Linked DNA regions of Homo sapiens. The protein of the gene in region 1 purifies or fractionates together with the protein of each later gene. This does not show direct contact. Each region holds a gene or a part of one and is shown in the gene's direction. Other genes may lie near its edges.

The links. Proteins that work in one complex are often made in the same cells at the same time.
Region 2: the proteins of CIC (region 1) and GMPS purify together in Homo sapiens (affinity purification with mass spectrometry, with the first as the bait; one large-scale study listed by BioGRID). This does not show direct contact.
Region 3: the proteins of CIC (region 1) and CTCF purify together in Homo sapiens (affinity purification with mass spectrometry, with the first as the bait; one large-scale study listed by BioGRID). This does not show direct contact.
Region 4: the proteins of CIC (region 1) and NFIX purify together in Homo sapiens (affinity purification with mass spectrometry; 2 studies listed by BioGRID). This does not show direct contact.

What each region holds. Positions count from the first base shown.
Region 1 is NC_000019.10:42,289,752-42,293,251, forward strand, and holds part of CIC (protein capicua homolog), read left to right. Parts: intron 1-96; coding exon 97-200; intron 201-481; coding exon 482-1,715; intron 1,716-1,806; coding exon 1,807-1,994; intron 1,995-2,334; coding exon 2,335-2,456; intron 2,457-2,548; coding exon 2,549-2,715; intron 2,716-2,814; coding exon 2,815-3,108; intron 3,109-3,204; coding exon 3,205-3,500. UniProt on the Homo sapiens protein: Transcriptional repressor which plays a role in development of the central nervous system (CNS). In concert with ATXN1 and ATXN1L, involved in brain development.
Region 2 is NC_000003.12:155,940,150-155,943,649, forward strand, and holds part of GMPS (GMP synthase [glutamine-hydrolyzing]), read left to right. Parts: 3' UTR 1-3,500. UniProt on the Homo sapiens protein: Catalyzes the conversion of xanthine monophosphate (XMP) to GMP in the presence of glutamine and ATP through an adenyl-XMP intermediate.
Region 3 is NC_000016.10:67,611,026-67,614,525, forward strand, and holds part of CTCF (transcriptional repressor CTCF), read left to right. Parts: coding exon 1-588; intron 589-925; coding exon 926-1,096; intron 1,097-3,500.
Region 4 is NC_000019.10:13,075,475-13,078,974, forward strand, and holds part of NFIX (nuclear factor 1 X-type), read left to right. Parts: intron 1-60; coding exon 61-197; intron 198-3,138; coding exon 3,139-3,261; intron 3,262-3,500.

The sequences.
Region 1 (3,500 bases):
GGTTTGGAGCAGAGCTGAGATCCAGGCTCCAGACTGTTTCTCCTGGGTCCCCCTGCATCTAGCCCCCTCCCCATACTGTTCCCTCCACTCCCTCAGCTGACGATGGCTTCGGCACCACTGACATTGATCTCAAGTGCAAGGAGCGGGTGACCGACAGCGAGAGTGGGGACAGCTCTGGGGAGGACCCAGAGGGCAACAAGGTGAGGGCTTGGGTCACGGTGCTGTCCCATCACACTCCCTCCTAAGCCATGGGAATGTCTGTTTCTCCCGGGCTTGAGAGAGGGGGAGATTAAGGTCCAGAGAGGGCAAGCTGCTTGCCCCGTGGGGAGTTGGGTCATAGTCAGGATGAATTGAGGCCTTCAGCTGGCAGGGGTGCAGCCCTAGGCTGGCCTGGCTGACAGGCTGGATGGGCATGGCTAGGGGGCTGCTATCGAGGTGTCGGAGTGTCCTGACCTGGGGTGTCTCCCTTCCTTTCATGCAGGGCTTTGGTCGGAAGGTGTTTTCACCTGTGATCCGTTCCTCCTTTACCCACTGCCGCCCCCCACTGGACCCTGAGCCCCCAGGGCCCCCGGATCCTCCTGTAGCCTTTGGCAAAGGCTATGGTTCCGCCCCATCCTCCTCTGCGTCCTCGCCTGCTTCCTCCTCAGCCTCGGCAGCCACCTCCTTCTCACTGGGCTCAGGAACCTTCAAGGCCCAGGAGTCTGGTCAGGGCAGCACAGCGGGCCCCCTACGGCCCCCACCCCCTGGGGCTGGGGGTCCAGCGACACCTTCCAAGGCAACCCGGTTCCTCCCAATGGATCCTGCCACCTTCCGGCGCAAGAGACCCGAAAGTGTGGGTGGCCTGGAGCCACCAGGCCCCTCAGTCATCGCGGCCCCTCCCAGCGGAGGAGGAAACATCCTGCAGACACTGGTGCTGCCCCCAAACAAGGAGGAGCAAGAGGGCGGCGGAGCCAGAGTGCCCTCCGCCCCCGCCCCATCACTGGCCTATGGGGCCCCAGCAGCTCCCCTGTCCCGTCCTGCCGCCACCATGGTCACCAATGTGGTGCGGCCTGTCAGCAGCACTCCTGTGCCCATCGCCTCTAAGCCCTTCCCCACCTCTGGCCGGGCTGAGGCGTCTCCAAATGACACAGCAGGTGCCAGGACTGAAATGGGCACTGGGTCTCGGGTGCCTGGGGGCTCCCCGCTGGGTGTCAGCTTAGTGTATTCGGACAAGAAGTCGGCAGCAGCCACCTCACCAGCCCCACACTTGGTGGCTGGACCCCTGCTGGGCACTGTGGGGAAGGCGCCTGCCACTGTCACTAACCTACTGGTGGGCACCCCGGGGTATGGGGCCCCTGCGCCCCCTGCTGTCCAGTTCATTGCCCAGGGGGCCCCTGGTGGTGGGACCACTGCGGGCTCAGGAGCAGGTGCTGGGAGTGGCCCCAATGGGCCAGTACCCCTGGGCATCCTGCAACCAGGTGCCCTGGGCAAGGCTGGGGGAATCACCCAGGTACAGTACATCCTGCCCACGCTGCCCCAGCAGCTTCAGGTGGCACCTGCCCCAGCACCAGCCCCTGGGACCAAGGCAGCGGCTCCCAGCGGCCCTGCACCCACCACCAGCATCCGTTTCACCCTCCCACCGGGCACTTCCACCAACGGCAAAGTCCTGGCTGCCACTGCACCCACTCCTGGCATCCCCATCCTGCAGTCTGTACCCTCCGCCCCACCCCCCAAAGGTGAGACCTGGGCCGGGCAGCACTAGGGGAGGGGCCATAGTCCTGTTTGGCTCCCTTGTAACCTTTTCCTTTCTTGCCTCTTAACTTCCAGCCCAGTCAGTTTCTCCCGTGCAGGCCCCGCCCCCGGGTGGCTCAGCCCAGCTGCTGCCTGGGAAGGTCCTAGTGCCTCTGGCCGCCCCTAGCATGTCAGTGCGGGGTGGAGGGGCCGGCCAGCCACTGCCACTGGTGAGCCCGCCCTTCTCAGTACCTGTGCAGAATGGTGCCCAGCCCCCCAGCAAGGTGAGGGCCTGCCTTTCTCTCTACCTGCTGGATGTTGGCCCCTGTACCCCATCATTTCTTTGTCTTTTTTTTCAGTCTTTTCTCCTTCTCCATGTATCTGGTTCTCTGTCTTGCCATCTTCCGTGATGTCTCTGTGCATCCTGACTCTCTCAAGTCCTCAGTGTCTGTACCCTCCTCCTTCTCTGTGTCCCCACCTCTCACTGTCATCTTGCCCATCCTGTTCTCACCCCAAGTTCTGTGTTCCTTGCTTTTGCTTAGAGTCCCACTTGAGGTCTTGGTCTTCCCCTGCCCCAGTCTGGGGCCACAGCTCACCCTGGCCTATGGGTGCCCTTCTCCACAGATCATCCAGCTGACCCCGGTGCCTGTGAGCACACCCAGCGGCCTGGTGCCGCCCCTGAGCCCAGCCACACTCCCTGGACCCACCTCTCAGCCTCAGAAGGTCCTGTTGCCCTCCTCCACCAGGTAATTGCAGCTGAGCCCATACTCAGAGGCCAGGGAAGGGGTGGGGCGGGGCCGGCTTACCTCACTCCTCCCCATTTCCTCTCCTGCGGCAGAATCACCTATGTGCAGTCAGCGGGCGGGCACGCGCTGCCCCTGGGTACCAGCCCTGCGTCCAGCCAGGCTGGAACAGTCACCTCGTACGGGCCCACGAGCTCTGTAGCTCTAGGCTTCACCTCGCTGGGGCCCAGCGGCCCCGCCTTCGTGCAGCCCCTGCTCTCAGGTGAGGGGCGGCCTGGCAGGCAGTGCTGGGGACCCAGGGTGGGGCTGAGGCAGTCCGGGCCCTAACTTGGTCTCCTGCTTCTTCTTCTCTGTCTTTCAGCAGGCCAAGCCCCACTGCTGGCTCCCGGTCAGGTGGGCGTGTCACCTGTGCCCAGTCCCCAGCTGCCGCCTGCCTGTGCAGCCCCCGGAGGTCCTGTCATAACAGCATTTTACTCTGGCAGCCCTGCACCCACCTCCTCAGCACCCCTGGCCCAGCCATCCCAGGCCCCCCCAAGCCTGGTCTACACTGTGGCCACCAGCACAACCCCACCTGCAGCCACCATTCTGCCCAAGGGCCCGCCAGCCCCTGCCACTGCCACCCCAGCCCCGACTAGCCCTTTCCCCAGCGCCACAGGTAGGTGTCAGATCAACCCAGAGCAGAGTGAGTTGGGGGACCCAGGGGATGGGCTCCAGTCAGGCCTGGCTCAGCAAACAATTTTCTCCCCACTAGCAGGTTCCATGACCTACAGCTTAGTGGCCCCCAAGGCCCAGCGGCCCAGCCCGAAGGCCCCCCAGAAAGTGAAGGCAGCCATCGCCAGCATTCCCGTGGGGTCCTTTGAGGCAGGTGCCTCTGGGCGGCCTGGCCCTGCACCCCGGCAGCCTCTGGAGCCTGGCCCAGTCCGAGAGCCAACTGCCCCAGAGTCTGAGCTTGAGGGGCAGCCCACACCACCAGCCCCTCCACCCCTGCCAGAGACCTGGACTCCCACGGCCCGGAGCAGCCCCCCACTGCCCCCACCTGCTGAGGAG
Region 2 (3,500 bases), on another chromosome or scaffold:
TTGATTAAATATATTCTTTTTCTTTGTACTTTTTAGGTAGACAGAGAATGTAGATCATTGAAAGCATTATTTATTCCTAAGATTGGCAGGCACAGAATCATTTTTAAGAACCAAATACCCAGTCCTGCCTTAAAGGCCACATCTATGATCATCAGCTCTGTTAGAAATAACAGCCTGGCATAATTCCTAAATACAAGTCTGTAGATATATCCAGGAGATAGGGTTACACTGTTTTCTAACCTTTTTTAAATCCCTTAATCTTGAGGTAAACTGCATGCATTTAGTCAAACAAGCATCATAAAATTTGTTTCCTCACTGTTTGGGCTTAACCTCCTGATAGCCTGTTTTACTGAATAACTTGACCCTAACCTGTAGAGAATAAGAGCATTCAAATTAGGAAGGCAGGACTATCCATCTTTAGTGCTTTTCCTGCCGTTAAACAACAATGTGAACTTGGTCAAGTCATTTCTGTTCTTTATCTGTGACATGAGGTAACTGTATTAAATTTTCAGCATCAAATCCAGCTATAAATTTGTATTTTGTAAACAAGAGAAAGTAAAGCAGGAGACAGAATGGAGAAGCTGGATAGTGTTTTTTTTTTTTTTTTTTAAGGTTCTTTTATCATCAGATATGACACAAAGGGAAACATCAAAATGCACCGTAAAGTTAAATCCTAGTTACCTTTTTTTGAAGCTGTTGGCAAGGTTTGACCACTTGGGGCATCTTCTGCTGTGAGATGACACTTGAAAAACACCCATCAAAGTTTTCCTGGTAGGAATCTCTCTTTACTGCGTGTTTTTTTGAAAAGCTGACAGAGAATATGCTTTGGCTTTGACACTAATGAAGTCACCCATCATCAATTACATACAGCTAATTGTTGGGAGCTAGAGCTAGAATCCAAGCTTTCTGATTCTCTGCATGGAAGAGGAAATGCTCTAGGGCCCTTCAGGGCAAATCTTAAAAGGAAGTTCTTGGCCGGGCGCGGTGGCTCATGCCTGTAATCCCAGCACTTTGGGAGGCCGAGGTGGGTGGATCACGAGATCAGGAGATCGAGACCATCTTGGCTAACACGGTGAAACCCCATCTCTACTAAAAATACAACAAATTAGCTGGGCGCGGTGGCGGGTGCCTGTAGTCCCAGCTACTCGGGAGGCTGAGGCAGGAGAATGGCCTGAACCCAGGAGGCGGAGCTTGCAGTGAGCTGAGATAGTGCCACTGCACTCCGGCCTGGTGAAAGAGCGAGACTCAGTCTCAAAAAAAAAAAAAAAAGGAAGTTCTTAGTGTGTAATTGACCATCAGGGATAAATGGGCTTCAAAAGTGTTAATTGTCTCCTTACTTACAGTGAGTTTCTAGAGATAGCCCTGTCTTTCAGAAATTCTCTGACATCTGCTTGCGCAATGTTATAACCACTTTCCCACACTACTCCCCTCCAGAAATCTCATTGATATGTGGCGAGGACACGCCTTAGCTATCACCCCAATGGATGCTTCTTTCATTGACCCAAATCCAGAATGTAATGGGGAACTGAATACAAGTTGGATGTCTCCACCCTTGGAAAGCACATCTTTTGTTCTTACTGAAGTAGTTTAACACCACCAGATGATCAAGGGATCAGGGTATCTTTCTGGTATCTTTTTAATCACTGAAGGACTTTGACAGCAGTAATGGTGGCATTGTTGACTCTTAAATTTCTGAACGTTTCACTTAATGGCAAGTGAAGAGATATAGAATCCCCCAAAGAGTGTCAAGATGCTAACTTCCAACCCTATTTTTATGTACTGAAGAGGCCTCAGTGTCTCACTGAACTCTAACCTTTTTGTCAGTGTTCCTCAACACTGGATGCGTATTATTACATAACCTGAGGAGTTAAAAAATACAATAACCAGATGTCCAATTAAATAAAATTAGAATCTGGAGGAGGTAGAACTCAAGCATTTACAGTTTTGTTTTGTTTTTTTTTTAAGACAGAGTCTCGCTCTGTCCCCAAGTGCAGTGGCACAATCTCGGCTCACTGCAAGCTCCGCTTCGTGGGTTCACGCCATTCTCCTGCCTCAGTCTCCCGAGTAGCTGGGACTACAGGCGCCCGCCACTACGCCCGGCTAATTTTTTTGTACTTTTTAGTAGAGACAGGGTTTCACTGTGTTATACAGGATGGTCTCGATCTCCCGACCTCATGATCCGCCCGCCTCGGCCTCTCAGAGTGCTGGGATTACAGGCGTGAGCCACCACGCCCGGCAAGCATTTACAGTTTTAAATCTCCCAGTCAGAATAAATTCTTATTGAGGGCCATACCTAGCCTGTCTTCATCAAACTCATAGGTGAATCTTTGTCAAACCTATAGGAGAGAGATGCAGGCCATAGAGATGGTCTTGCTGAAGGTCTTATAGCTAAATTAGTTCAGATCCAGGAACCAGATTCTGGAACTGATTGCACCTATATTATGTTGTGTGTCAGACACTCCCAGGACCTGTTTGGTAATAATTAGGACAGCTGACATACTTGTTGCTAATTTTGAGATCTGGGCAACAACTGTGTAGGCTGTTCTTTCAACCTCTTTCTTCTTACTTCTTTACTTTTCCTTCAGAGAGGAGAAAGCCACCCCTGTGCTATAGCCACCGCTCCAATTCTGACTCTAGCTAGGTCATGAAACAGACTGAGCTATTATTGCATCAACACATAAATCCTGTCATTTGGGTATTATTCTTTAGAGAACTAGAGATTACCTAGCTGCAACCTAAGTTTCCTGAATTAGAATCATTTGAGCAGCACCATCTTAATTGGCTCATTAACATATTTGTGACCAGGCACAGTGGCGCATGCCTGTAATCCCAGCACTTTGGGAGGCCGAGGCGGGCGGATCTCTTGAGGTCAGGAGTTTGAGACCAGCGTGGCCAACATGGTGAAACCCCATTTCTACTAAAAATGTAAAAATTAGCTGGGCTTGGTGGCGCGCGCCTGTAATCCCAGCTACTCGGAAGGCTGAGGTGTGAGAATCACTTAAACCCGGGAGATGGAGGTTGCAGTGAGCAGAGATTGCGCCACTGCACTCCAGCCTAGGTGACAAGAATGAGACTCCGTCTTAAAACAAAAACAACATATTTGTTCACTTTTGAACCCTGTGGTGTCTTTTAACTTTGTTAAGGGCCCTTGGTTAGCAAAATTATGAAAGTTTAGGAAATTTGGCTATTGAGTATATTAAGTACAACTACAAAATCCTCTGAGTTCTCCAGGAAGCCTAAACCTTGAGCAGTATCTTATTCAAGTGGAGTATATATCTTCAAGAATACAGATTTTTAAGGTAAGTAGTTTTTCGTCTTTGCATCTCCTAAGACCATTGTTAACAACCTTGATATTAAACGAAGAAGTGAATGTAAACCTCCTTTTGAACATATTTTTTATAAAGAAATATTTTGTTAATTGGAGTAAGTAGTATTGTTATGAAATCACTGTGTAATTGTTAATTGTAAACTGCAATGTCTATTTTGTGTTGTAACAATGT
Region 3 (3,500 bases), on another chromosome or scaffold:
AGCTGGACCCCACCCTTCTTCAGATGAAGACTGAAGTAATGGAGGGCACAGTGGCTCCAGAAGCAGAGGCTGCTGTGGACGATACCCAGATTATAACTTTACAGGTTGTAAATATGGAGGAACAGCCCATAAACATAGGAGAACTTCAGCTTGTTCAAGTACCTGTTCCTGTGACTGTACCTGTTGCTACCACTTCAGTAGAAGAACTTCAGGGGGCTTATGAAAATGAAGTGTCTAAAGAGGGCCTTGCGGAAAGTGAACCCATGATATGCCACACCCTACCTTTGCCTGAAGGGTTTCAGGTGGTTAAAGTGGGGGCCAATGGAGAGGTGGAGACACTAGAACAAGGGGAACTTCCACCCCAGGAAGATCCTAGTTGGCAAAAAGACCCAGACTATCAGCCACCAGCCAAAAAAACAAAGAAAACCAAAAAGAGCAAACTGCGTTATACAGAGGAGGGCAAAGATGTAGATGTGTCTGTCTACGATTTTGAGGAAGAACAGCAGGAGGGTCTGCTATCAGAGGTTAATGCAGAGAAAGTGGTTGGTAATATGAAGCCTCCAAAGCCAACAAAAATTAAAAAGAAAGGTAAAACGAGTTTATCCATAGTGGTTTCATAAAACCATTTTGGGATAAGCATACAACACAGTGCATATGCAAGTTGTTTTATATTAACCGTATTTGTAAAAGGTCGTTATGTGGGTACCGTTCTTTAAAACCAGTCTAAAATAAGTTTTTTCCAGATTGAATGCTCTTTTTTTAATCCCAAAGAAGAAGGAAATGTATTAGTGACATGAGATAATTATGACTTATATTGGGTTTTGTTATTAAAAGCTAATCAAATATATTTGTAGAAATTTAAGATTAGGATTAATCTTAACACTTTGAAACTCTGCAGCAAGTAAGTGTTTTATTTTGCACATAGGTGTAAAGAAGACATTCCAGTGTGAGCTTTGCAGTTACACGTGTCCACGGCGTTCAAATTTGGATCGTCACATGAAAAGCCACACTGATGAGAGACCACACAAGTGCCATCTCTGTGGCAGGGCATTCAGAACAGTCACCCTCCTGAGGAATCACCTTAACACACACACAGGTGCTGGATAAGAATGTTGGGGGCTACAACAGCAAATGCTCAGACTTCGCTTTTTAGTATTCATTCAAGCTGACTCCAGCGGGAATTTAAAGGAAGTTTTTATTATTTCTTATGATGCCCTTTTTGTAATCATGATTTTATTGTAAGCACTTGGACTTAGTTATTATAGACAAATGTAAAGAAAATTTAATGAAAAATAACACCCTCTCTCTTAAAAAAAAGAAGTCTCAGGCAATAGATGCCTGGTACTATGAGGAAGAATGTTAGAAATAGAAGTGAAATCCCAGTGAAACCCTGTCTCTACTAAAAATACAAAAAATTAGCTGGGTGTGGTGGTGGGCGCCTGTAGTCCCAGCTACTCGGGAGGCTGAGGCAGGAGAATGGCGTGAACCCGGGAGGTGGAGCTTGCAGTTAGCCGAGATCCCACCACTGCACTCCAGCCTGGGCGACAGTGCGAGTCTCCGTCTAAAAAAAAAGAAAAGAAAAGAAATAGAAGTGAAATCCTACCTTTATTTAAAAAAAAAAAAGTGGCCGGGTACAGTGGCTCACGCCTGTAATCCTAACACTCTGGGAGGCTGAGGTGGGCAGATCACTTGAGATTAGAAGTTGGAGACCAGCCTGGCCAACGTGACAAAATCACATCCATCTGTACTAGAAATACATAAATTAGCCAGGTGTGGTGGCGGGTGCCTGTAATCCCAGCTACTCAGGAGGCTCAGGCAGGAGAATCGCTTGAAACCTGGGAGGCAGACACTGCAATGAGCTGAGATAGTGCTACTGCACTCCAGCCTGGGCGACAGAGTGAGACTCCATCTCAAAAACAAACCTTAACATTTTTTGTTTCTGGTTGTTTCACGTCAAGGAAGATAATTCATAATTTCAGAATGGAAAAGCTAAGGCACCATTCTGATAATTCAAACATTTATTTGAGCATCCTACTTACTTTAGTGTTCAGATATTCTGATATTAGCTTCATGTTGGCTGTGGCCAGGTTCCCTGAGGTCTCTAAAGTAGAGGGACTCTGTGCACTAAACCTCTCTTTAAGCTTTCCTGAGCTATTTGTTATCCCAGTGTAGGAAGTTGGTTGCAAGTCTTCTCACATGGTTTTTCATGCAGAATAACTTCATTTCATATGACAACTCTTGTTTTTGATTTTTAGGTTTTTAAAAATTTCTAATGACAACCCTTGTTTTAGATTTGTTGTGCTGGTTGTCAGATGACCATGATCAAGTGGGTGTTAATCATAAACAGTATGCTGCACATGGGCACATTCTTCACTAATGTGACTTACTTTTAAACATCTCCCTAATTTCTACTCAGACACTTGATAATATGTTTTATTTGATACTTTGAAGACACTAGGATGGGGCATATGACTAAATAAAAGTAACTGGGTAATCCCAGCACTTTGGAAATCCAATGGGGGGTAGATGACCTGAGGCCAGGAGTTCTAGACCAGCCCGGCCAACATGGCAAAACCGCCTCTGTACTGAAAATACAAAAAATCAGCTGGGTGTAGTGGCACACGCCTGTAAACCCAGCTACTTGGGTGGCTGAGGCAGGAGAATCACTTGAATGCGGGAGACAGAGGTTGCAGTAAGCCAAGATTGTGCCACCGTACTCCAACCTAAGTGACAGAGCAAGACTCTGCCTCACCAAAATAAATAAATAAATAAATAAATGGCCCCATAACAGGACTTCCCAAGATGGGTGTGCCTTGGTGTGGGCATTCTCTATCTGGTCTTCAGCTTTGAAAGTAAGAGGTACAGTCTATCTGGTTACTCAGCAGATTTGGCAAGACTGATTCATACCAACAAAACCCATAAGAGCAGATGCATACACCAAGAGTATCAGTTTATGGTGAGGAGTATACCTTTTCATGTTCCAGATGCAGTTGCATTGCATTCTAGGGGGCGCCTTTGCCTCTGTTACGATGCTGTAGCAGCCGGGCGCCGTAGCTCTCGCCTGTAATCCCATCACTTTGGGAGGCCGAGGTGGGTGGATCACCTGAGGTCAGGAGTTCAAGACCAGCCTGGCTAACATGACGAAACCTCGTCTCTACTAAAAATATAAAAATTAGCCGGGCGTGGTGACGCATGCCTGTAGTCCCAGCTACTCGGAAGGCTGAGGCAGGAGAATTGCTTAAATCCAGGAAGCAGAAATTGCAGTGAGTGGAGATCGCACCATTGCACTCCAGCCTGGGCGACAGAGTGAGACTCCATCTCAAAAAAAAAAAAAAAAAAAAAAGATGTTGTAGCAATTGAAAGCTAACTTGGTGAGGATGAGCCTTGATGGCTGGGCATGGTGGCTCACACCTGTAATCCCTGCACCTAGGGAGGCTGAGGCGGGTGGATCACTTGAGGTCAGGGGTTTGAGACCAGTCTGGCCAACATGATGAAACCTC
Region 4 (3,500 bases), about 29 Mb from region 1:
GGTCACTCCCTGGAGCCTCAGCCCATCCTTGGCCCATGTGACCCTTTCTTTCTTCCCCAGCACCACCAAGCGCCCCAAGTCCATCGATGACAGTGAGATGGAGAGCCCTGTTGATGACGTGTTCTATCCCGGGACAGGCCGTTCCCCAGCAGCTGGCAGCAGCCAGTCCAGCGGGTGGCCCAACGATGTGGATGCAGGTATGGGTGCGGGGGATCCTGACCCAGAGCAAGGGCAGCCCAGAGTCTTTTTGTCCCCTTCTCAGTTCACCTGGTGAGCCTCCCACCAGTTGTCCCCCTGTCGGGGGGCATTACCCATCTGTTTTCTTGCCTCCTGATCTTCCAGGGAGGGCAGAGCAGGCTGAAGGAAGGGAGTGGAGGTGAGGGTGAGGAGGGGTGCTGTGAGAGTCAGCAGCAGAGCCCGTGGTATGGCGGTGGGAAGCAGAGGGGGTGCCAAGCCTCTGGTGCCCCACAGTGGGATGGCCGCAGCCCCTCCTGGTATTTCTCTAGAGGTTGCCCCACCCCGTGGCCTCATGGTTGAAAGCAGTTTCTCACCCTGGGGGCTCATCATTCTGTGTAGGGGATTGTTCTGTGCATGGCAGGATGTTTAGCAGCATCCCTGGCCTCCACCTACAAGATGCCAGCAGCAAAACCCCCACCCCCAGTTTTGATGACCAAAAACGCCTCCAGACATTGTCAGACGTTCCCTAGTGGGATGGAATCCTCCCAGGATGAGAACCACTGGTCTCAAGGGCCCAGCTTCACAGAGAGAGGCTCAGAGTCTAGTGAAGAATGAGCAGAGTCCTTTTGAGACCAGGTAGGGAAGCTAGCGAAGGGGAGAGAGTACAGAGGAAGCCAGCTCAGACCTTCCCAGTCTCCTCTAGGGATCTTCTTCTTGTTGAACCCACCCCCCTTCACCTCCATTCTTGACTGAGGGTGCAGACAGACCTAGAGAGGACTCTGGAAGACAGCATGTAACACGTGCGTGTGTGTGTGTGCATGTGCATGAGCACATGTGTGTGAGGAGGCTGGCCGCAAGAGTCCCCCGCTGACGTGCCAGTGGTACAGCCCGTGTTTATCCTCACTGTGGGTGTGACAGGGCCTGGGAGTGCAGACTCACGCGTGTGGGTTGTGCACAGGGCATGGCTGCTCTGGACAGGCCTGGGCCCTGGGCATCATTCTCCTCCTCCAAAAGGTGAGGGTCTGACCTAATGGTACTTTGTCTGATGTTTTCCAGATATGCCCCTACTGGGAAGGGCCAAGTGGGCAGGCAGAGTCTGGGGTGGAGCGAGGTGGGGCTGGGAAGCACTCCTGCTTTTCTGCTGCCCCAGAACGAATGCAAGTTCTGGCAGCTTCTCCTCCTCCTGGGAGGAGGAAAGGAGGGCTCGCCTCCAGGCCTCAGGCTGAGGGAGTGGGCTGGAGACCCTCTAGATGGCCAGCAGAGGCTGGCCTCTGTGAGAAGGCTTCCTTGCGTGACTCTGGGGCCCCTCCCAGGCTCTCCTCGTGGCAGGCAGGGACTTGGGCCAGCATGGGCCACATGCTTCCCTAGGGGAGCCTTGAGAGGCAGAGAGAGGAGTTGAGAAGGCCCGGGAGACTCTTGGGCTACATCCTGGGTCCCTGGCCGGGGCCTCAGTAGGTGACCCCTTCTGCAAGGACTGCCCCTGGGGTGCATAGAGGACTGTGTCTGCAGCTGGCTCCTGGGGCAAGGGCTCCTGGGCTCCTGTGCCCAGACCTAATTCCTGAGGAGCCCCCCTCTTCCTGGCTCCTGCTCTCTCCTTTCTTGGCTGTCTGCTTTTGCGCCTGCCATTTCTGCATTTCTGCTCCTTCCGGCAGTCCTGCCACGCACGGCCCCTCAACATCCTCCTGCAGCACCCTCCGGCTCCCTTTTCCCCTCACCCCGCTGTGTGTTGTTTTCATGGGCTGCAACAAATTGCCAATTAAGCAGCCCAGCTGCAGGACAGGGAACAGCTGGGGAGGCACTGTGCGGCCATGGGGACAGCTGTGCACAGCTGGTAGGATGCTCCCCCCTCCCCACTGTGCCAGCTATCAGGTGGCACACAGCTGCTGCCAGATAACACCTCCGCTGGCGGCTGGGAGTTCGCCCTTCCCCCGCCCCTTCCCTCTGCAGTTAAGATGGCTCTTTATTTCTCTGTTCTGCAGCCCCTCCACCCCTCACCCAAACTGACTTGATTTGTCCTCCAAGGGTGGCAGCTGTGAGATCTGCCCCAACTCTACCTTATCCTTCCCAGCCTGGGCACAACCTTAAAGCTCAGCCCAAGATGGGAGCTGATCTTTCCAGAAGAACCTGGCCCCCTGGGGGCCCTGCTTTGTCATTTGGATGCTATGGCCACTGGGCAGAGATGAATTTCTAAAGACAGACTTCAAACAAGGTGTTCTCTGTGCCCTTGTTTCATGCTGAATGCCACCCACACCTCTGGCACCAGAAGCAGGGCAGAGCCCTGAAATTATCCATCCTATGGCAGCTGAGCTTCTGGGTCCCCTGGCTGGGGGAGTCTTCTCCCCTCTGGCTCTGCCTGCACAGCCCGGCTAGGCCTGAGCAGCCCAAGGACTCTCCAGGTCCTCTGGCCTCTGTCCCTGCTCTCTCGCTGGGCATTGTGTCCCTCCTGAGGGCTCATGGCTGTGTGCTCCCTTCCCTAAACGGGGCCCTGGCTTCTTCCCACCAGAACCTCCCATGGCCCCGGGCACCATGGCATAGACCCCAGCCTGTCCCTCCCAAACTTACCCCTTCCCGGCTCTCAAGCTGGCGCCCTGGGGTTCCTCCTGCACTCCTTTCCCAATGTTGGTCCTGCATCCCACCCTTTCACTTCATTACCTGCTTGCCAGGGCATAGGCTGGGGCCCTTGCTCACCCCCTGCCTGGCACACACCACCCCACATTACCCAGGGGCCTCGTTTTCCTCTCTGGTTAGAAGCACCCCTTGGCTGGCCTACACACAGGGCCTCGGAACCAGGCCTAGAACAAGGCCTGGGACTGGGCAAGGAGCAGCAGGAGGGAGCACAGTGGAGGAAGGGGCAGTGGGGAGGGGCTGAGGAGAGAAGGAGCGAGCTGCTGGCTTCCCGCCTTCCCCGCACCCACCCCAGCCCAGCTAAACCTGCCCTGTGTTGCTGCTTCCTCCCCCCAGGCCCGGCTTCTCTAAAGAAGTCAGGAAAGCTGGACTTCTGCAGTGCCCTCTCCTCTCAGGGCAGCTCCCCGCGCATGGCTTTCACCCACCACCCGCTGCCTGTGCTTGCTGGAGTCAGACCAGGTGAGAAATGGGGGGCCCCGGAGGGGGGCAGTTGGGGAGGTGGCTGAGTATCTAGGGGCAGCTGGCCAGGTGAAGGGGCCAGAGCTGACCCCGAGTGACAGCCCCACGCTCTCCAAGTGGGCCAAGGTGCAGCAGCGGGTGGGCATGGGAGCCGGCCCCTGCTTCACGTAGCACCTCATCGAGGACCAGGCCGGGCCCCTGGGCTGCCCACCTGGCTCCTGAGCAACCTCCCACTTCTC